Homo sapiens: one gene and its partners. The protein of the gene in region 1 interacts with the protein of each later gene in a biochemical or structural test. Each region holds a gene or a part of one and is shown in the gene's direction. Other genes may lie near its edges.

Region 1 (4,179 bases):
AAACAAAACCCAGCACTTTCTGCCTTGATTGCACCATTTTGAATGATGCCAGATTCCCTTTCTGTTCCCCCTAGGACAGTTGACAGGGCTGGTGAAAGCCTAGTCGGCTGGAGTGGTCAGGTAACTGGGTGGCATCCTCTCCTCTGGAGAGCCACTCCCTCATCTCTAGGTCCAGAGATAATCTGGATTAAGACAGGGCTTAAGTTTCCTGTTTCCCAGGTTTGTGGTCAGTTTTGACTCGATCTCCAGAAACAAGGTAAAATAGTAAATGAACAACAGCCTTTGTGAAGGATCTGGATTCACATCTGACAGGAACAGCTTTCAGAAACAGAATTTTACTCAATTTCGCTAGCATCAAGTTCTCAAATTATACATACTTAGAATTGAAAACGTTTAAGAGGGTCAGAAAGCTGGCCGGAGGGGCAGTTGCTTCAGCTTTAATATGACAAATAAGAGGGCGAGTGGGAACTTAGAGGTCATATTTGTGACGGGCTCAGGCTTGGCTACGGGCCACGCTTCTCTGGCTTGGATCTCTGAGGCCCACTTCGGCCGCGGTCATCTACCCATGATGAGGGAACGGAGGCCCCGGAGGGGTGGCCAGAACCGATTGGACTGTCCACTCGAGGTGCGCGTGGCACTCGGGAGGCCTCAGTAAAGGCGTCGCCTCTCCCCGCCCAGGGCCTTCTTCCCCGCGCTCCCTGGCTGCTTTCCACAGGGACGGGGATGTCAGGTGGAAGGAGGGAGCTCCGGACCCTGGCCTCGGCGGAGGGCTCCTCACCAGGCCAGGGCGGCAGCCTCAGAGAGGGCGGGCCGCGCGCTGCCAGGGCAGGGACTCGGCCGAGAGTGCCCCCGCGGCCGGCAGCTGCGGGCGCCGCGGCGGGAACAAAGGCAGCACGTGTCTGGGCGGGACGCGGGCGGGGTCGGCCCTCGGCTCCGCCCTGCTCGGCGCCCGCCCCGCGTCGGCAGAGTTGGGTTGCGCGGGCGCCGAGGACTCTCCGGCGGCCGGGCTGCTGTTGGGCGGCGGCGCGGAGCGGGCGGCGAGCTGTGCGGGAGGGGCGGCCCCGAGGGGCGGGGCGGGCCGACGCCGCGTGTCCCGCCGCAGCCGCGGAGTCCGGCTCCTAGATGGGGCCCGGCGCGTAGAGGTGCCTCCCGCTCGTTGCCGCGTCCTACCCGCACCGTGCGCGGCTCGAGCTGAGGACACCAACGGCCGCGACTCCCCGGCGAGACCAGGCCGGAGCGTGGACGGCGCGCGCGCCCCGCGAGGGAGGGCGCTGAGGCGCGCGCCGGAAGCGGGAGCGGGAGCGGGAGCGCGGCGGCGGCGGCGAAGGTGCGGGCGGCCGAGCGGGGGGCGGGGCTGCGGTGCCTGCAGAACCTTGGACAGAAGCTCCCTAGCTGCCGCCGCCGCCGCCGCCGCCGTCGCCGCCGCCGAGCGCGAGCCCAGCCGATCCCCGCCGAGCGCCCCCGAGCGCCGCCGAGCGCCGGGACCGCGGCGGCGGGGCCGCGGCGCGCATTGCGGAGGGCGCGGAGCGCAGGAGCTGCCGCCTGCCGGGTAAGCCTGCGCTGGGCGGCCGTCCTTGGCCCTGGGGAGCGGAGACCGGGGTCGCGCCCGTGCGGGGTGTCCAGGCGGGGGTCCTCGGCCGCCTCCGTCGGCGACCGGGCCCCTCCCGGCTGCGCCTGGGGACCGCAGCGGCGGCGGCGGGCGGGGGTGCTGCAGTGGAGGCGGCGAGGCTGCGTCGCGGGGGCGCGGGTAGGGCCCGGGACTGGGGCGGCGGGGTGCGCCGAGGCGCGGGGCGGAGGGGCGCAGGGGCGCAGGGGCGCGGCGCGGAGCCCAGCCTGGCGCTAAGAACCATCTTGTTTTCCAGGCAGATCCAAGGGGGCAGCACGCTTCCCGGGAGCGCCCCCGCCTCCTCTCCGGGGCCGCCGCAGGCTCGGTGAGCGGTTTTATCCCTCCGGCCGGCAGGCTGGGCGCGCAGGGGCGCGAGCCCCCGCCCGGCGCGCAGCAGCACCATGGGCACGGTGCTGTCCCTGTCTCCCAGCTACCGGAAGGCCACGCTGTTTGAGGATGGCGCGGCCACCGTGGGCCACTATACGGCCGTACAGAACAGCAAGAACGCCAAGGACAAGAACCTGAAGCGCCACTCCATCATCTCCGTGCTGCCTTGGAAGAGAATCGTGGCCGTGTCGGCCAAGAAGAAGAACTCCAAGAAGGTGCAGCCCAACAGCAGCTACCAGAACAACATCACGCACCTCAACAATGAGAACCTGAAGAAGTCGCTGTCGTGCGCCAACCTGTCCACATTCGCCCAGCCCCCACCGGCCCAGCCGCCTGCACCCCCGGCCAGCCAGCTCTCGGGTTCCCAGACCGGGGGCTCCTCCTCAGTCAAGAAAGCCCCTCACCCTGCCGTCACCTCCGCAGGGACGCCCAAACGGGTCATCGTCCAGGCGTCCACCAGTGAGCTGCTTCGCTGCCTGGGTGAGTTTCTCTGCCGCCGGTGCTACCGCCTGAAGCACCTGTCCCCCACGGACCCCGTGCTCTGGCTGCGCAGCGTGGACCGCTCGCTGCTTCTGCAGGGCTGGCAGGACCAGGGCTTCATCACGCCGGCCAACGTGGTCTTCCTCTACATGCTCTGCAGGGATGTTATCTCCTCCGAGGTGGGCTCGGATCACGAGCTCCAGGCCGTCCTGCTGACATGCCTGTACCTCTCCTACTCCTACATGGGCAACGAGATCTCCTACCCGCTCAAGCCCTTCCTGGTGGAGAGCTGCAAGGAGGCCTTTTGGGACCGTTGCCTCTCTGTCATCAACCTCATGAGCTCAAAGATGCTGCAGATAAATGCCGACCCACACTACTTCACACAGGTCTTCTCCGACCTGAAGAACGAGAGCGGCCAGGAGGACAAGAAGCGGCTCCTCCTAGGCCTGGATCGGTGAGCACTGTAGCCTGCGTCATGGCTCAAGGATTCAATGCATTTTTAAGAATTTATTATTAAATCAGTTTTGTGTACAGTATGTGTCTAGCAAAGCCACCAAGGGCCTCACCTTTCCCACAGTCTCTCCCTGGGGTTTTTTTCATCCCTGCCAAGAACTCTGGGCACTTTTGAACTCACGAGCCTTGCGCAAAACCCAGAAGATGTATTCAGAGCCACCCAGGCCACTGACCTCCCACTTTGGGGAACTCAAAGGACTGACCTGCCCCTGCCGCCTGTGCCCTTGCTGGGTCCAGGGTAGGCAAGGCTGCCGGCTGCACCCTGTATGGAGCTAGAGAGGGGCCTCTGGCTGCCTGGCCCAGGGAGGAATTGGGGTTTCTGGTTGGAGGCCCTTTTCTGGCTCCTGTGTGGAGTTATTCACTCTCCCAGAGGCTCCTGGAGCCAGCCACCCTAACTGAGCTGCCAGTGGGGTCGTGAGGCAAGATCCCCGCCACCCGGGGACATCTTCAATCTAGGCGAGGCGAAGCTGAGCGGGTCTAGTGGAAAGATTGTGTCTGGTCGTTTGACCACACACCGCCCTGATTTGCTGTTTTCTTTTTTTAGGGAGAAGGGCTTTTCTTTAGTGGAGAAATGGAACTCGCCCCCCTACCCCCTTGTCTGCTGCTCCCAGCCACGTTGGTGGTATTGGCCGATGAGCTGGTTTGACTCATTAATTTCTCTCAATTTGGGTCCCAGCTAAAGAGGTGGGGTGAAGCTGGGGACAGCTTTCCTGGGTGAGTTTTTCTTTTGAATAATGTAGTGCAGTCACCCTGTGGCAAATGCCAGGACAGCTGCAGGTGCCCATTAGCAACGCCTGCCTTCTGGGCAAGGTGAGGGATGCCATACCTTGAGACCAAGCCGGTGCCCACCTAAGGGCTAAGGCCTCTTGCTGGTGCACATGACATTTGTCCTGCAGAGCTGGGGGGAAGGCGATGTGGTGACCCCACCCCCACCCGTTAATTTAAAGCTGTTTCTAAACAGTTGAGTTTCTTCTAAAGAGGAAGCCTTGCCCAGCAAGGACCAGTGAGACAGCCGGATCTTGGAGACAATTACAAGACGGGGAGTGAGACTCCTGATTGCTCTGGAAGCCTGCTGATTTCTACAACTGATCATTTGCAGCTGCTGGTTTTGGTTTCCACCTTACCCTACTGGCTGTAAAAACACAAATGTGTACTTTATTGATTTTCTTTCTAATTCTCCCGCATTGGTGGCT
Region 2 (4,107 bases), on another chromosome or scaffold:
CAGAGAAGACTTTTAAGGTGAGTGGGATGATGGGTGGGGAAGGTTGAGGAATGACAGATTTCTATATGAAAGTCGCTGTGGCTACAATGTGGAAAATGGATTAGATGGGGCCTGGGCAGAGGTGGGGGAAGGCTTTCCCATTGGCTTCCTCCTTGCCATCCCCATAGCCATGATCCCCAGTCCAGATTTTTGTTGTCTCTTCTTGTCTTGCAGCAGAAAACCCCACTACTATTGTCCCTAGCAACTTACCTTCAGTGTGGCTGTCTCACTTCTGACAAAAGAAAAGAAAATCAACAATCCTTCGTTGGGCTCAAAATAAAGTTCAGAGTCCTTAGTCTGGCTACAGGTCCCTTCAAACCTGGCCCTTGTCTCCCTCACCAGTGTCACATCCAACCACTTGTCATCAATACCTGAGCTCTAGTTCATACAAGGGAGACTCGAGAGCTGGACCGCAGTTTGAGGTGAAAGGACCAGAGGAGTAGAGGCACCGAGAGCCAAATCTGAGGCCGAATCAGAGGTCTAGGATGTTAACTGAACAGAAAGTAAAGGAAACTGGCCGAAGCGGGGGTTTCAGGCAGTTGGCTTCCAGCATCTTCAGGCGGTTGGCTACAAGAACATCAAAGACCAACATTTGGGAAGCACTCAGGGACAAGACATCCGGAGGCTTGGATGCAAGACCAAAGGTGTAGTTGATGGGAGGTAGTTCCCCAGGACAGGCCCCCGAGGACTGACAGATGGGAGCTTAAGGACAGGACCCCCAACCAGTAGAGAAATGAGGTTCCCGAACAGCCATGACCACAGCTGGCGCAGAATGGGCAGGACTCAGAGACTTGTAACTCAGAAGGTCAAGGACAATGGCTGACTTGAGGATGACTTGGTAGGAGGAGAATGATGAGAACATTCTTTATATTCTACCTGTCTGGAGACAGAATGAATTCTAGAACAAAAGGAGCAAGGCCAAGCTTCCAATCAAGGCTAGAGCTAGAAGGTCATGGAGAAAGGCGTGGGCAGCTCCTGCCTTCGCCTGCACCAAGTTCAACAAACACACAGTCATAGCCATGGCTGGTCCCCAGAGCACACACAAGGCAAGGATGTTAGTGGCCAGCCCCATGCACCCCGATGAGCTATGCTCGCTTGGGAGACCCATCCTCCTTGAAGGTGAGTGAAATCTCAACACGAGTATGGTTCTGAGAGTAGCTCTGTAACTCTGAGGATGGTCTCTGGAGACCATGACTGTGTACAGTTCACATGGTAACCAGAAGACTATGACATACTTCAGAAGGTGGTGAGGTCATAGAACACAAGCTTTAAAGTAAGTGAATCATGTGTGCCTCATTTATTTTTAAAAGCAACTTCTGAGAAGGGCTTAGAACAAATTTTTTCCCGGAGTGCCATTTCCCAAAGGTACTCACAGAACAATCAGGTGTGACCATAATGGCTGCACTGAGTTGTCTCTTGGACAGTGTCAGAAGGGACATAAAGAAGGTGGACAGAGAACTAAGGCAACTGAGATGCATCGACGAATTTAGCACACGGTGCCTGTGCGACTTGTATATGCACCCCTATTGCTGCTGTGACTTGCACCCATATCCGTACTGCTTGTGCTATTCCAAGCGATCACGCTCTTGCGGCCTGTGTGATCTCTACCCATGTTGCCTGTGTGATTATAAGCTTTACTGTCTGCGACCATCTCTCAGAAGTTTGGAGAGGAAAGCCATCAGAGCCATAGAAGATGAGAAGCGAGAGCTTGCCAAGTAAAATAACTTATTTTTAAATTTTTATAGTCGGTATATTAGCCTTATAAGTTGGAATAAGGAAAAATATGTGACAATCAATAGTTGAACAAAGATTAAAAGGGTTCAGGATAATGACCCTGGTGACTTAGGAAAGATTTAAGGAAAGAAGAGTAAATGAGTCCATGATGGGAATTGTAGGGTTCTCAAAAGACAATGTAATGATGTCGATTGGCAAGGTCGTCGGTGGTTTATAGCAAGAATGCCAGTATGATAAATAATGCGGCTTTAATGAAGGGAAGAAACAGGGGGTGTCATTAAAAAGCCATTGGAAGCAGCAAACTAAACATTTTTCCTGGTTATGAGTAAAGTGATTTGAGTATATTTGGACTTACAGAAATGACTACAGGAGAAGTAATAATAATAGATCAAATCCTTAATGTGTGCCAGAGGCTTTACAAGCAGGAGAGCAAATTGAACAGTAGAGGCATTGCCTTGGTTTTGTGGGAATATCATTCTCCTATCCCCCCACTCCAGGCAAAGACTTACCTTGTATCTGGAATTAGGTCTATCATGTTGGCCTCCCCTCTAACTCTAGCAAAGGTCTTGCAAATAAACTATGGCACTGAGTTGTAGCTTTCAGGATAGACTTGAAAGGCTTTTTAATTGAATTGGGTAATTAAAAAGAGTCAGTTTTTTAAAAAAATTTTTGTTTTAGATTATATTTTCTTTTTGCCTGGAGAAAACTTTCCTTTTCTAACTTTTTACATATGCCATTTAGTCTGTTACTGTTGATGAAAAAGATGGTTGAAAGTGCTGTCCCTGGTTAAATAAATAATACATTCATGCACTGGAATAATAAGTAAATATAGAAAGGATTGATGAAGCATCTTACATATTGATGTATTAAGTCAAACAAGCAAAGTGCAGAAAAACTGATAGACAGATGACAGATAGATAGATAGATAGATAGATAGATAGATAGATAGATGATAGATAGATAGAGTCTCTTGACAACAGTGACAGTGATGTTTCTTTGGAAAAAGCAATAGGAGGCCGGGTGCATTGGCTCATGCCAGTAATCCCAGCACTTTGGGAGGCGGAGGCGGGCAGATCACCTGAGCTCAAGAGTTCGAGACCAGCCTGGCTAACATGGTGAAACCCCATCTCTACTAAATACAAAAAAAAAAAAAAAAAAAAATTAGCCAAGCGTAGTGGCACGTGCCTGTAATCCCAGCTACTCGTGAGACTGAGGCAGGAGAATCACTTGAACCCAGGAGGCAGAGGTTGCAGTGAGCCAAGATTGCACCACTACACTCCAGACCGGGTGACAAAGTGAGACTGTCTCAAAAAAAAAAAAAAAAAAAGGATAATTATTGTCTAGGTCACCAGCCACCAATGGTCAGGAATGAACCTCCCTCATAGCCTGGGAGCTTTCACCTGTAAATTCATCTATACTCTTTGAACCAATGTTTGTTTTTATTTCTTAGGGCATCAAGTCACATAAATTGCTCACACTGTGAGGCAGGGACTCTTTTTAAAATATTTGGTCCAAGTTAAGGTTTCCTTGTGAGCAGATCAGTATCCACTCTCCTCCTACTTTTGGATACTTGAATACCCTTGTCCAGGTCTTTCCAGCCTCTGTCTTCCTGGCTTCTCTCCTATCCCCAGACTCTACCAATTAAAATCCCTCTCTGTCCTGTGCTGTCTACTCTCTTGATGCCTCTTTCAGAAGCCTTGTTTCTTGGCATGCAGTAGAAACAGCTTCAAGCTTAATTCTCGGCAGTGTAGTTTAGGCAAGAGGTAATGTTTTCTCTGGTTTGTGATGCTCTTCCTGACAGCGTCTGGGTCTTTGCCTATTTTTTCTCTGCCTGCAGGCAATATGTGAAGCTGGTGATGTCTTTACATTAATTTCTGGATCTCGGAAATGATAACTCCAAGTCCATTGTAGAAATGACCTCAGGCTTGTCCGCTTTATCTCTTCCAATTCACACCACCTTGTGAAATTTCTATGCTCTATTTCTGACAACTTGACATTTCACTCTCCAGAAGGGCTTAGTGTCACTTGCAAACCTAAATATTCAATTTTCCTGAATATGGGTGAAAATGTTAAACCCTGATTCTAGCCTCAGTCCCAGAAGGCCCCCAGTGTAGTATTTTTTCTTCTAGTGCAGTGCCTTTTATTCTTATCTCTAAGCTAGCGCCTGATCCATAACTAAATAGATGCAGAAATATCATGTTGATTCAATTTTTTAAAACAATCTTTGGTGTGAAAGCTTGCCCAAGGCTTTTTGAGTTTAGAATTCATATTCACATGACCTTCCTCCCCTTTAAAGAATGCAAGGGGGTTGGTTAGTTATGACATATCCTTTCA
Region 3 (4,019 bases), about 15 Mb from region 1:
CTCAGGTGGTGGTTCCCACCTAATCACCTAGGTGTCATCCTTAGTGTCTCTCTCCTCCACCCAAACAGCCAATCAATTGCCAAGTCCTATACATTTTCCTCCTAAATATTCCTCAGATCCAGCCCTTCCCCTTCCTCCTCATATCTTGTGTCCCAGCTCAGGCTATAATCCCTCGATAACAACCTCCTTCCAGCCTCCTTGTCCCCAGTCTTATCTCCCATGCATCCATCATCCCAGCAGCCTATCTGTACAGGTTCCTCCCTGCCTCAAACCCCTTCTGTGATTCCTCTGTCTGAAGGGATGAAGTCCAAGTTCCTTAATAAGTCTCCCTTTGATATGGCCTTTCCACCCTTACAGCCTCTCCTCTAGCCACTCGCTGCCTCAAACCATCTACGGTATAGAGGTTGGCCTGCCCGCGGAGCCGACTTCATCTTGAAATTCTTCATCATTTTGTAACAAGCAGCTGTGCATTTCCATTTTGCACTGGACCTCACAAATTACGTTGCCCGTCCTGCCTGCCTGTTGTTGCTTGCACCCCTCTTGCAGTTTGTGGCCACCTAAGCTTTGTCTGTGTAGTCTCCTCCACCTAAAACTCCTCTTCCCACATCACCCAGCTATCTTCAGCTCTTCGTTTAGACTCAATGTAGGTGTTCTCTTTGGGACGTCTCACCGACTCTCTTCCTTCCCCTTCCCTGCCCTAATCGCCCAACACGTTGCAGGTGCTCAACCATGTCTATTAGAGAAACTGAATGAGGAGGCAAAGCATGACAAGTGCCACAAGAGACCTGCACACTGCTCTGGATGGTAAAGCGACGCAAGGAGGGAAGAAGGTATTTGCAACGGCCTCCCAGATCGGCGCTAGGACCCCGCCAGCAGACGTCTCAATCTGCGTGGAGAAGACCCAGTGCCCGCCAGGGGAAGCGGCTGCCAGGCTGGGCTCTCGAGCGCCGCCTGTCGCAATCCCACGGCCGCTGCAGCGCACCCCCTCCCGTCCCCTGCCCTGAGCCCGCCTCGCGTCTCCAATTGGCTGTCTCCATTCTCCCGCCCCTCCCGAGCTCAGCCATTCGGAGCCTGGGGTGGGCGGGGCTTGAGGCCTGAGTGGAGCGTAAACCCTGATTGGCTGTACGGAAGGCGGCGACGTGGCCGAAGGATGCCCGTTTGTGTCTAAACGGAGGCTCGGCCACAACGCCACTGGATTGGTGGTAGGGCGGGGCGGGCCACAGTCTCCAGCCTGAAGCGGAAGTGGAGGAAAGATGGAGGTGTGGGGACAGGAGCTGGGTGTGCTGGGGACTGGCCGCGGACCCCTAACCTGTGTCTCCGGTCTCCCTCCGGAAGCGGCTCAACCCAGCCCATCGCTCTGGCCCCGTTCTGGCCCTGCAGGGTGGTGGTTGGGACGTTGAAATGAGCGCGCGAGTGGTACGTCCTCTCTCCGCGCTCACGCCCCCCTCCTCACCGTGTTTCCCGCCAGGACCATCAGCACGTGCCCATCGACATCCAGACCAGCAAGCTGCTCGGTAGGAGGGGGCGCCACCGCGCAGCTGGCTGTCGGGGGGAGGCCTGTGCGTTGCCCCCTGTGTCCAATAGCCGGGAGCTCTGACCCCTGAAAGCCTGAGTCGAGATGCTGACCACTGGCCTCGTTCTATGCCCCATCTGTGGCCAGACCTGCTTCCCTGATAGCAGCGGGAACGAACCATATGTACAGTCTGTTTGACCTGCGTTTTCTCCTTTAATAACATATGTTATCGTATCATTCAGGGACAGGATAAATGACTCGCTTTAAAAACAGTCAACCACTGCCGGGCGCGGTGGCTCATGCCTGTAATCCCAGCACTTTGGGAGGCCGAGGTGGGCGAATCACCTGAGGTCAGGAGTTCGAGACCAGCCTGACCAACATGGAGAAACCTTGTCTCCATGTCTCCATGACTAAAAATACAAAAAAATAAAAATAAAAAGTAGCCGGGCATGGGAGCACATGCCTGTAATCCCAGCTACTCGGGAGGCTGAGGTGGGAGAATTGCTTGAACCCCGGAGGCAGAGGTTGCGGTGAGCAGAGATCTCACTATTGCACTCCAGCCTGGGCAACGAGAGCGAAACTCCATCTCAAAAAGAAGACAAAAAACAGTCAACCACTAAGTGGCACATCTGAATTGGAACTTAAGTCTGTCTGACCCACTGTCCATGCCTTTTGCATTATGCCAGGAAAAAAAAAAAAAACCTCATTTAAAAAGCTTCCACCTCCCCCTTGATTTTAGGAGGAAGAGGGACCTAAGACCCAGTTGCAAATGAAAACCTTTTAGTGTCCAGGCCATCTCCAGGTTGTCTGTATGGGGCTTACATACTTCCTCCCCAGTTCATAGTCAGGGAAGGCCTCTTCATCTGATCACACAGCTCCTGGCATTTTAAAATGCTTATTGGATTCATGGATTTGATGCCAATCTTGTCCTTAAGATGGTGTCTGTTTGACTACCCCAGTCCGTTGCTTCTAGTTCTGTGACATCAACAGAATTTTTCTTTCTGAAAACTTTACAGGAATATAGCAGAGAGAGTATAACTGATACTAGTGTGGGACCCCAGCGTTTGACCGGTTGGCAGAGTTCAAGTTCTGAATTCACCACTCTGTAGTGCCATTTAGTCAGTCCTGCTTGGTGGTCACGGGGGAAGCTTCTTTAGCCTCCCTTCAGATTTGTACTGGCCCTTCAGCCCATGTGCAGTCTTGGTGTGTGAGCTTGTTCTTGGTCATGAAAAGGACCAATAAAATGACCACCATTCATTGAGGGTTTTTTTTTGTACCAGGTGCTGTTTTAGGCACTTGACATGATAAAAATGATCACTGTCATTTTTTGAGTCCTTGCCGTGTCTCAGGCACACTGTTCAGTGTTTTACCTGCATTCCCTTTTCTAGTCAGTGTCTTATTATTCCCCATTTTACATGTGGGAAAACTGAGGCACAGAATAGTAGACTTGCTCAAGAAACTTGATAACGAGAACCCAGGACCATCTGACCACAAAGCTCAGCTCTTAGCTCTCACTGAGGAAATATGCATGGCTCTGAAGCCACAAATCTGGGCCCAGACTTTGAGAGGTCAGTCCCATTGGTATTCACATGTACAGGGTGGTACTTCACTGTTCACAACAGAGTCATGTTATCTAGTCCTTAGGGCGCTGTAGGTATTAGGGGCTTTGCAGCTGTTCATTCATCCAGTACTTGGCATAACCATCTTGTATTTTCCATTGTCATGGTTAACCCCAGCCCTGAGGAAATGGAAGTTGAGCAGCATCCTCTTGTCAGGAAGAAAGATATAATTACCCATAGAAGCAAAAATATTATGGGGAATTGAGAATGGTCAAAAGTGGCACTTTCAGGACCAATTTAAACTTTTTGTTATCCCTGTGTTGAGGCAATTGCTCTATAAAAATCACACTGCTAATGAAGTCAGATTGTCAGAGCCTGGTTTAGCCCCAGGCATCTCTTTGGGCTTGTCTTTATTCCCATCTTCCCATGACCCCCATACTTTAACCAATGTAAAGAAAACTTTTAGACTAATTTCAGTGTATTTCACTCGAATTAGTGATGGAATTTTGGTGATGTGAATGGGAATGCTCTAATTTGGGTGCTTCTCATGTAGATTGGCTGGTGGACAGAAGGCACTGCAGCCTGAAATGGCAGAGTCTGGTGCTGACGATCCGCGAGAAGATCAATGCTGCCATCCAGGACATGCCAGAGAGCGAAGAGATCGCCCAGCTGCTGTCTGGGTCCTGTGAGTGCTTAGGGGCTGTCACTGGAGTCCCCTCTTTGCTGAGGTAGTATGTATCAGCTGAGCTACTCTCTTGTTATTTAGCCACCAGGGCTGGCCTTTAGAGAGGGAGCGATTTTTATTTGAGGTATAGATGCTGGCTTCTTCCACTATGAAATGATTTAGGGAAAAGCTACACACTAAAGTTACTGGCAGTATATTATACATGAATCAGCCACCTGCAGTGCCCAGAGTAGGTGAAGAAGATACTTTAGTTCTCGAAATC
Region 4 (4,103 bases), on another chromosome or scaffold:
GCCCGGGAAATCTCACTAATGTAAACCTTACTGAAAATCCTAACTGCTGTGATCAAGGCTGCCATAAAGGGAAGCCCGGAAGAGGCGGGGAGGCTGCCTTGGAACAGGGTAGTGTAAGGATGTGCCAGAAGGCCTGCTGGAGGTTGCAGCCCTTTGAGCTGGACTTGGGGATAGTGTGGTTTTCCAGGCAGAAGGAAGTGAAGGATTAGGTCGGCCTGGTAGTACTTGGCACACAACATGCGCCCAATAAATAAAATGGAAATAAAACCGCGGAGTGTTCTACTTGTGTTGACTGACATCAAAACAAAACAAAAAACCCTCAGAGTGAGGGGAGGCACGGGAGGGGCTGTGCCGGGCAAGAGAGGTGGCAGGAAAATCCAACGCACGGCGCCTATGCAAATACTCGTGTGAGGCAGAAAAGAGGCTCCGCCCCGCTCGAAGTTCCAAGCATGCGCAGTAGCGGCTCCTGCGCCTCTAAGGATCCGCCTCTTTCCTTCTTTCTCAGCCTGGGTTCCACCCCGGGAGGCCCGCTGTATGAGATGGAGGGCGGGCTAAAGGCGGGACGAGACTCGATTGAGCGCAATTATGACCAATCACCTTGCGGAATATTCGGCCTATAGCGAAGGAGGAGCTCAGAACAAAAAGGAGACCCCACCCCCGCCGACGGTGAAAACCTATGAAACCTGGGCGGAGGCGTGCGGAGTCGGGTAGAGAGCGAAATCACGCCTCTTCAGTCAGCCACGCCCTTTATTCTTGCTCGGCCTCGCCACAGAGAGCAAATCAGATTGGCTGGGCGACAACCTCAAAGGGCGGGGCTGCACACGTTCACTACGGGAATGAGGTAGCGGTGGAGGGGGCAGTTGGGCGGGGATAGGCCGTCCTAGCTAAGGTGGTAAAGGCCAATAACTCTTCAGGCTGCCTCTCCTCGAAAAGTCATCTTCTCGCGAACCTTTAAAATGCCTTCCTCCCCAAGCACCTCAAGGGACTAGAACTGAGTGCTTCATTTGTCTTTTTTCCTCCTTGCAAAAGTCCCGTTTGCCACCATGGGGATGTACCAAGTGAGACCGAGTAGGGGGAACGAGTGGTGATTGACGCGCCAGGTTACTGGCCACTGCTCACCTAGGCGCTAGCAAACTTCTGCCAAGATCGGAACTGAGTACTAAACAGCCTCCACAGTTCTCCCTGGTGCCGTCTCCGGCTTGGCGCCGCATCCTCCTCTGGGCTCGCGATGGCCGCGTCCCCTCCCGCTGCGGACGGGTCCTTTGGTACATGCAGTCCGAGGTGAGTCCCCTCCTTTCCACTTCACCCTTCCGAGCGCCTGCGTGCGCATGCGCGGAGCGCGGCGCGCGCGGCGGTTGGGCCGTTGGCTGTTCGGCCCTGGGATCCGCCGCCACTCCGCGATCAGACCGCTCTGTGCCGCGAGCCGCCGTGAGCACTCGGATTCAAGCCGGCGCCAACGAGTCCGGGGGCATCGCCCGCAGCGGCCAAGCTCATGGCCGGCTGAGCGGGACGCCGCCTCCGCCTCAGCCACCGCCGCCGCCGCCGCCTCCTCCTCCTCAGCCGGCGGCGGCCCGGGCCCAGCAACCATGGCTGAAGACTACTGGGACGGGCGCCTGCGGCGAACAGGAGGAGAAGGAGGTCGCGCGGCCTCATCCCGGGCCGCCGCCCCAGGCGCCGCCGCGCCGGCCCCGCGGCTCTGAGGTTGCTCGCGCGCCCCCGCCGGTGAGCGCGTCCCCGAGGCGTGGAGGCTGCCCCTCCTCCTTCAGAACCCACCTCGGGCGGTGCCCAGGGGTCTGGGCTGCGGGGCTGGCAGGTGCCCCCACCCCCGGCGAATTTCCCAGAATGCACCGGGGCGGGGGGTCATTTGGGGCCTCCCTGACCTTGGCCCCGCCCTGGGCCTGTCCTGGGAGCTGGGGTTGGGTAGTGCTGTGGGTGCTAATGGGGACCTGGGGGAGTCAAAGGACCAAAGGGTGTGGAAATGGGTGACAATGGGGTGAAAGACTTGGGGGGGTTGCTGATGGGGGTCGGAGCATGTGGCAGTAAGCCTCACGCCAATAAGTCGTGTAAGGTTCAAGGCCCCGTGTGTGCTTGTGGAAGGAGGGCGGGGTGCGGAGCGGGTGAGGGACCCGAGGGTGTATAACGGGGGGTAGGGTGTCGAGGAAGTTCTAAGACATGCTCATAGGGATTATGTCCGCAGAGAGGCCCGGTGTGTGTTCATGGGGGACAGGGTGGCACAGGTACCAGAACGTGTGTTGGTGGGGTCAGGGCTCTGAGGCCTGGTGCGTGGCGATGAGGCCCTGGATGGTGTTAATACTGCGTGTCTGTCCGTGGGGCCTGCAGTGTGTGAGAATGCAGTGTGTGCTTGTGGAGGGCAGGTAGCTGAAGGACTCGAGTGTGGTGTGTGCGCCAGTGGGGGTCATGGCTGTAGAGGGTGTATGCCTGTGGCCTCGAAGGTCTAGGTAGTTTGGGACCCAGTATATGCTAATGAGGGCAGAGTGGAGGAAGGACCTGAGGGTATCTAACGGAGGAAGGACTGTGGAATACCTGAGCCTGGCCTAAAGGAGATGAGAATTGCGTGTCTGTCTGGGCCCAGGAAGGAGTGGTGGGGAAGTGTCTTAGCACTGTCAGAGGCTTAGTGGACGAAGGGTAAAGGTGATGTGAGGTGTGAGTGTGTCCATGGACACAGGGAATGTGAGTCTCGAGGGCACACTAGGAAGGAGCAGGGTAATAGAAGTACTGGTGGTTGCTAATGTGGGTTTAGAGACATAGAGGCACTTCAATGTGTGCCATTTCGAGAGTCAGCTGTGTGAAGTCTGGAATATGCTAATAAGCATCAGAACCTTGTGAAGATTGTGCCCTTGTGTCCGCGGAGGACCAGAGTATGTTGAGGTTCCAGGGGGTGCTACTCGGGGGTAGGGCTGCGGAGGGGATCTAGTGTGTAATAAGGGGGATCAGGGCTTTCATGAAGGGATCTAAGTGTGAACCAACAAGGATTATATCTGTGGAGATATCTCTGAGCAGAGAGCAATAGAGGACAGGAATGTGTGATGATCTCGGTGTGCTAAAGTGGATTACAGCTAGGGAGGGCTGAAGTGTGTGCTAATGGGAGTCAGGGCTGAATGAGACCTGTGTGCACTAATGAGGGTCAGGCCATGGTAGAACAGTGTGTTTGTGTGTCCCTGCGGAATAGGGCTGAGTAAGGGTTCAGGGTGCACTAATGGGGAGGCAGGACTGTGTGAGGCCCGGCGTGTGCTAATAGAAATCAGGCCTGAGTGAAGACTCAGTTTGTGCTGACAGAGGGGACAGGACAGTGGAAGGACTGGAATGTGTGTTAAGGATGGTCGTAGCTGTGAAGGGGCCTGAGTGTGGGTAACACTGGTTAGAGATCTATCTGTAAGGTTCACTTTATGTTAATAGCATTCAGAGCAGCATGAAGAAGGTCCAGTGAGTGCTAATGTGGGTCAGCTATAGAGTACCCCAAGTGCATGTTAATAGAGGTCAGAATCATGTAGGGGGAACAGTACGTTAATGAGGGGAGTCAGTACTATGGAGAAGGTAACAAGCAGCTAGGCCAGGGAGGGGCCCAAGAATGTGGTGGCAAGAGTTACTTAGAGGAGGCTAAGTGTGTGCTGACAGAGTTCAGGGCGGTATGTTATGTGTTAGGGCTTTGAATGCTGATGGGTATATGAGATAATAGCAGGTAAGATGTAGTGAGGCCTCCTTGAGGGTCTAGCGTGTATTAATGGGGATCAGGACATAGGGTGCGATGACCAAGTCCTTAGTGGTTGGTGTGTTGAGTATCCTTGAGTATGAGAGTAGTCTGAGGATGGGTGTATGTCTTTGGGGATCAGGAAGGGTCAGGCAGGACATGTGCCTTTTTTGGGGTAAGGTTTTATGTCCAGTTTCTTGCTCCCTCCTTTTTTGAAATCTAAAAAGCTCATTCAACTGAAATGATATTTAAAAGTTTCCTTGCGTATAAATGTTCAATTATCTCTGTTCACAGGGGCATGTCTGAGACCCCCATCCCCCTTTCTGGGAGTGTTATGTGATATACAGATTTTACACCCCATCTTCCTAAAATCCCAAAAAACTGAACTCCAGAG
Region 5 (4,162 bases), on another chromosome or scaffold:
GAGGTGCCACATAATGTATGATGTATACAAAAAAGCCTGAGTTCCAAACACATCTTGGATGAGAGGTTGGGACTGTGGGGGATCCCTACACTGGTTAGAGTTCTAGACCCAGAGCAGGGTTATGGTCAACGGCGCTCTGGCCACAGAATGCAGCAGAGCAAGGACTGTGGAACAAAGACGCGGCTTACATGAATTTTTCACTTACCGTGCTGGGTGCTGGTGATTCAGAGATGGAAAGGCCCTAGCGACACCCCCCTCCACCCAGGGAGCCCACGGGCCAGCAGAGGGACCAAGGGGCACAGGACGGGTGGGGAGCAGAGGCGGATTCCCTGGCTGTGGAGGTACTGTCTATACGGGGTGCAGGAGACATCTCCATACAAGGGGGCCCTCACCTGGGGAGGTGGTGACCGCAAGCCTGACAGCCCCAAAGCCTTCAGAGATGCCGCCTGGGGACACTTTGGGAAAGTCCAGGCGGAGGACACCTGGGAATGTGATAGTGACACAAATGACCGGAGAGACTTGCTCTCAGTCACTGAGTCTGGCTGACTCACTGAAGATTAGGGCCTGAACTTCCCCCTCTGTAAATGGGGTGCAGGCCCTGGCCCTGCCTTCACAGTGCCCCTCGGTCCCCTACAAGCCTTCTCCGCAGGGTGGGATCGGGTCTGCCTGGAGCATCCCCACAGCCTATGGGTCAGCAGAGAAGCAGGCGCAGAGCTGGGGTGAGACGGTCAGGGCCGGTCCTGCCAGACACCTCAGATCACTCCTCTTCACAAATAATCCCATTTTACAGCCCAGGAAGAGAGAGGCCGGACCACTGCCCAAAAGCCTGTGGCCTACAGCCTGCCAGGTGCGTCTGCTCGCAGAGCAGGTCTGCGCAGCACCGAGCGGTCAGCAGGGGCAATGCTGGGCACTGGCCAGCCGCGCCAGGACCATCCCTGCTGACCTCGGCGGGGTGGGGCGGAGCGTGCAGGGTCTGGCCCGGAAAGCCAGGGCAGGCTTTAGAGAAGGGCCACCGGACGGATGGTCCGAGGACCGGCATGGACCCGGGTCCCAGCGAGGGCGGGGGGAGCGTAAGGCTGGGCCTGGGCTGCGGCACCGGGGAGGTGGCGGGGAGGAGGCCGGCAGGAACAGCCGTGCAGGGCGGGGGCGGCGCGGGTCTGGTCGGGTGACCCCGGGCGCGGCCAGGGCTGTAGGAGGCGAGGGCGTCGCCCCGAGGCCGTGGTCTCGGGTCCATGGTGGGGGACCTGGGTCCCCGCCCCCCCGGGCCGCCCTGGGTCGCGCGTGGGCGCGGCGGGCGCCGATTGGCTGCCGGGCGCGCGGGCGGAGCGGGCGGCGGCGGCGGCGGCGCGGAGGGGCCGCTCACCCCGCAGCCCGGCCTCGGCCTCCGCCGCTTGTCGTCGCGCCCCGCCCGCGAGCCCGCCCCGCACGTCCCCCGCCGGCGGCCACCATGAGCACAGGCCTGCGGTACAAGAGCAAGCTGGCGACCCCAGGTGAGCCCAGCGCCTGCCCGCGTGCCCGCGCGCGCCTTTGTCCCCGCCGCCCGCGCGCCTCTCACCGTGTCTCTCCGTCTCTCCCCCGCCCGCCGGCCCGGACCCGCTCGGAACCGGACCCGGACTCGACCCCGACCCCGACCCCGCAGAGGACAAGCAGGTACGTGCGCAGCGCCGCTCCCCCGCCGGGAGACCCGGCCGGCTGTCACCCATTGTGACACTAGCGCCTTGGGCGCCCAGGCGCGACCCCGCCCCCGCCGGCCCTCACCCAGCCCTGTCGCGATCACCGATTGTCAGCCGGGCAGTGCCGCCGCGCCTGGGGCTTCAGAGGAGAGGAGTGGGGGCCCTGGTCCCCGGACCCGCACAGCAGGGACCCTGCGCCCCTCCCCAGGATGGGGGGATGGGCAGAGTGTCCCCCTCCCACAGGGCCAGTGCCAGCATCTCCTGCTGACCTGGCCTGTAGGCCATGAGCTGGGGGTCCTGGGTGAGGCCATGGTCGTGGCAGGCCACGCTGGGGGAGGGGAGTCAGGCTCCATCAGCCAGCACAGTCCCTGAACAGCCCTACAGCAGAGGGCCTGTGGTCACCACCCACCTCCCCTGCACCTTCATGCCCCTTTCCCTCCCCATACACAAATTTGAGTGTTCAGGTCTGCAACAGGGACTCTTCCCCAGATTGGGAACCCCCAGGGTCTGGTCTGAGTCATTCTGGGTGCCCAGATGGGTCCTGGGACCCTGTGGGTACAAATAGGCTTGTGGCTTCTCAAAAGGGTTGGCCCCACCCTCCAGGAAAGCAAGACTGGACAGGAGGCTGGTCTAGGCACCTGGGTGAAACCCAGCCGAGCTCAGGGTTAAACAATGCTGTGAGGCCCCTGGGGTGGGGCGGGGGCTGACAACCAGGTGGGCTGGGGGGGCTGGGGAAAGCCTGCTGGTGTCCTCTCTGGCTTGAGCTCAGCCATCTTTGGAGGAAAAAAGAAGAGCCCAATTCTGGCACCAGGGTGGCACTGGCAGCCCCCATCAGGGATGGAGTTTCTCAGGAGCCATGGATGCTGAGTGGAACTCCAGAGTCCTGGCCCAGGGTGCAGCAGGCAGGGCAGGAGGGCGGGCAGGGGGGCCAGGAGCTGGGGGAGTCACTGGCTGACCAGTGCCATTCTCCTGGAAGGGACACACCCCACCCAGAGGTGGATGAGGCTCTCTGGGAGGGGCCCCTTGGGGAGCCAGGCTGGGAGCTGCCTCCCCATCACAGCAGGTCAGACAAAGCCTGAGATGCAGGGACACATGCGTCAGGCTACTGTTTGAGGGAAATGGAAGGAACTGAGGCTGGGAAAGCCAGGAGGCCAGGCCCCTGAGGCTTCTCCTGTGCCTGCAGGTGTCCCCAGCTTGACCCAAGGGCACTCTGAGACCCTGGGCTCCAGCCACTGCTGTTGGGTGCAGCCAGGTTCTCTTGCCCATTACTGCAGGGTGGGGACCCCCTCCTGCTGAGGTGCCCATCGTTTGAGGTCAACCGGGAGTCCACCTCACCCCATCCCAGGCCTCCCAGGCCTCCAAGCCCAGAGGAAGAAGGCACTGTGTGGCCAAGGAAGGGAGCCCCGGAGCAGGAGCCAGGCCAGGTGTCTGGGTGACCAGTGGGTCTGGGGGAGCTGGAAGCACATGGCAGCTTCCCTGCTACCACCGTTGCTGAGCCTCAGCCTGTCCAAGCATTCTTTTTGCTCTTTGAAAGGGGGCTGTAGAGGCATTGGGGGAGTTCCGTCACTACGCTCTGTGCCCCCACCTCCTCACAGGCAGCACCGGTGATCTCTTGGCCCTGGCTGCTGCTCCCAGAGCTGACTCGGGTGATTCTAAGAATGGAAGTGCCAGAGAGGCTCAGGCATTGGGAGGAGATGGGCGCAGCTGTGTCATATGGCTCAGGAAGCCCTGGGAGTATCTTTTGTCACTTGGGGACCAGAGAAAGGGGGTGGCAGGTACGGCCCCTTCCTTGAGGCTCCCCCAGGGAATCCACAGGCCCTGACTGGGCCCCAGTGGGTGGCAGGGCAGGTGGGTTGAACGCTGAGAGTGAGATTCTTGCCCTCCTGACCTGGGCCTCCCCAGAGGCTGTGCCTTACCAATGGGGAAACTGAGGCAGGCAGTCTGAGAGCCACACACTCTGTTAGACACCTCCTAGCCTGAGGCCTAGGCCCAGGGCTGTCTGTCTTCCTGGAGATGCCCTGGGCCTGAGATGCCAGCCTGTCTGGGTGGGTGCTGGGCTTCGAGGTGTGGACCCTCAGTTGGAAACTGGGTGGGACTCAGCCTAGAGGCTTCCTGCAGGTCAGGGCCATGGAAGGCTGGGGCCAGTGAGGAGGCTTTCTGGCAGCAAGGACTGAGGGATGCACTGGTAGAGCTGGGGGGCCTGGAGCTGCCCCCTTTCCCTGGGATGAAAGGCTCTCCTGTTCCCAGCTGTGGGCCTGCCCCTCCTCCCCAGGTGCCAGTGGTCCAGGCCCCACAACAGGACCAGGGCCTGGACAGGAAGTGGAGGAGGTCTCTCAGCCAGGAGAGCCTAAGGGAGGGCTGGTGGCGGGTGGGGTGGGGTGGGGTTGGGGCCTCCAGCTTCTAATGTTCTAATGTGCAGGGGCTTGGCCTGACCAGTCCTACCCTGGAACCTTTCCAGGCCCCATGTCCTGCTCCGCTGGGCTTGCCTG

Evidence for each region.
Region 2: of the proteins of CDK5R1 (region 1) and ODF1, one has a biochemical effect on the other in vitro, tested with the Homo sapiens proteins (one study listed by BioGRID).
Region 3: the proteins of CDK5R1 (region 1) and CDK5RAP3 form a complex in vitro, tested with the Homo sapiens proteins (one study listed by BioGRID).
Region 4: the proteins of CDK5R1 (region 1) and CDK16 form a complex in vitro, tested with the Homo sapiens proteins (one study listed by BioGRID).
Region 5: the proteins of CDK5R1 (region 1) and SEPTIN5 form a complex in vitro, tested with the Homo sapiens proteins (one study listed by BioGRID).

The regions. Positions count from the first base shown.
Region 1 is NC_000017.11:32,485,614-32,489,792, forward strand, and holds the start of CDK5R1 (cyclin-dependent kinase 5 activator 1), read left to right. Parts: upstream 1-1,379; 5' UTR 1,380-1,549; intron 1,550-1,862; 5' UTR 1,863-2,007; coding exon 2,008-2,931; 3' UTR 2,932-4,179. UniProt on the Homo sapiens protein: p35 is a neuron specific activator of CDK5. The complex p35/CDK5 is required for neurite outgrowth and cortical lamination. Involved in dendritic spine morphogenesis by mediating the EFNA1-EPHA4 signaling. Activator of TPKII.
Region 2 is NC_000008.11:102,550,294-102,554,400, forward strand, and holds the start of ODF1 (outer dense fiber protein 1), read left to right. Parts: upstream 1-1,295; 5' UTR 1,296-1,434; coding exon 1,435-1,754; intron 1,755-4,107.
Region 3 is NC_000017.11:47,969,894-47,973,912, forward strand, and holds the start of CDK5RAP3 (CDK5 regulatory subunit-associated protein 3), read left to right. Parts: upstream 1-1,219; 5' UTR 1,220-1,253; coding exon 1,254-1,259; intron 1,260-1,468; coding exon 1,469-1,514; intron 1,515-3,625; coding exon 3,626-3,757; exon of another isoform or gene 3,758-3,800; intron 3,801-4,019. UniProt on the Homo sapiens protein: Substrate adapter of E3 ligase complexes mediating ufmylation, the covalent attachment of the ubiquitin-like modifier UFM1 to substrate proteins, and which is involved in various processes, such as ribosome recycling and reticulophagy (also called ER-phagy).
Region 4 is NC_000023.11:47,217,384-47,221,486, forward strand, and holds the start of CDK16 (cyclin-dependent kinase 16), read left to right. Parts: upstream 1-1,297; 5' UTR 1,298-1,722; intron 1,723-2,901; exon of another isoform or gene 2,902-4,103. UniProt on the Homo sapiens protein: Protein kinase that plays a role in vesicle-mediated transport processes and exocytosis. Regulates GH1 release by brain neurons. Phosphorylates NSF, and thereby regulates NSF oligomerization. Required for normal spermatogenesis.
Region 5 is NC_000022.11:19,713,142-19,717,303, forward strand, and holds the start of SEPTIN5 (septin-5), read left to right. Parts: upstream 1-1,361; 5' UTR 1,362-1,447; coding exon 1,448-1,490; intron 1,491-1,555; exon of another isoform or gene 1,556-1,639; coding exon 1,640-1,650; exon of another isoform or gene 1,651-1,654; intron 1,655-4,078; exon of another isoform or gene 4,079-4,162. UniProt on the Homo sapiens protein: Filament-forming cytoskeletal GTPase. May play a role in cytokinesis. May play a role in platelet secretion.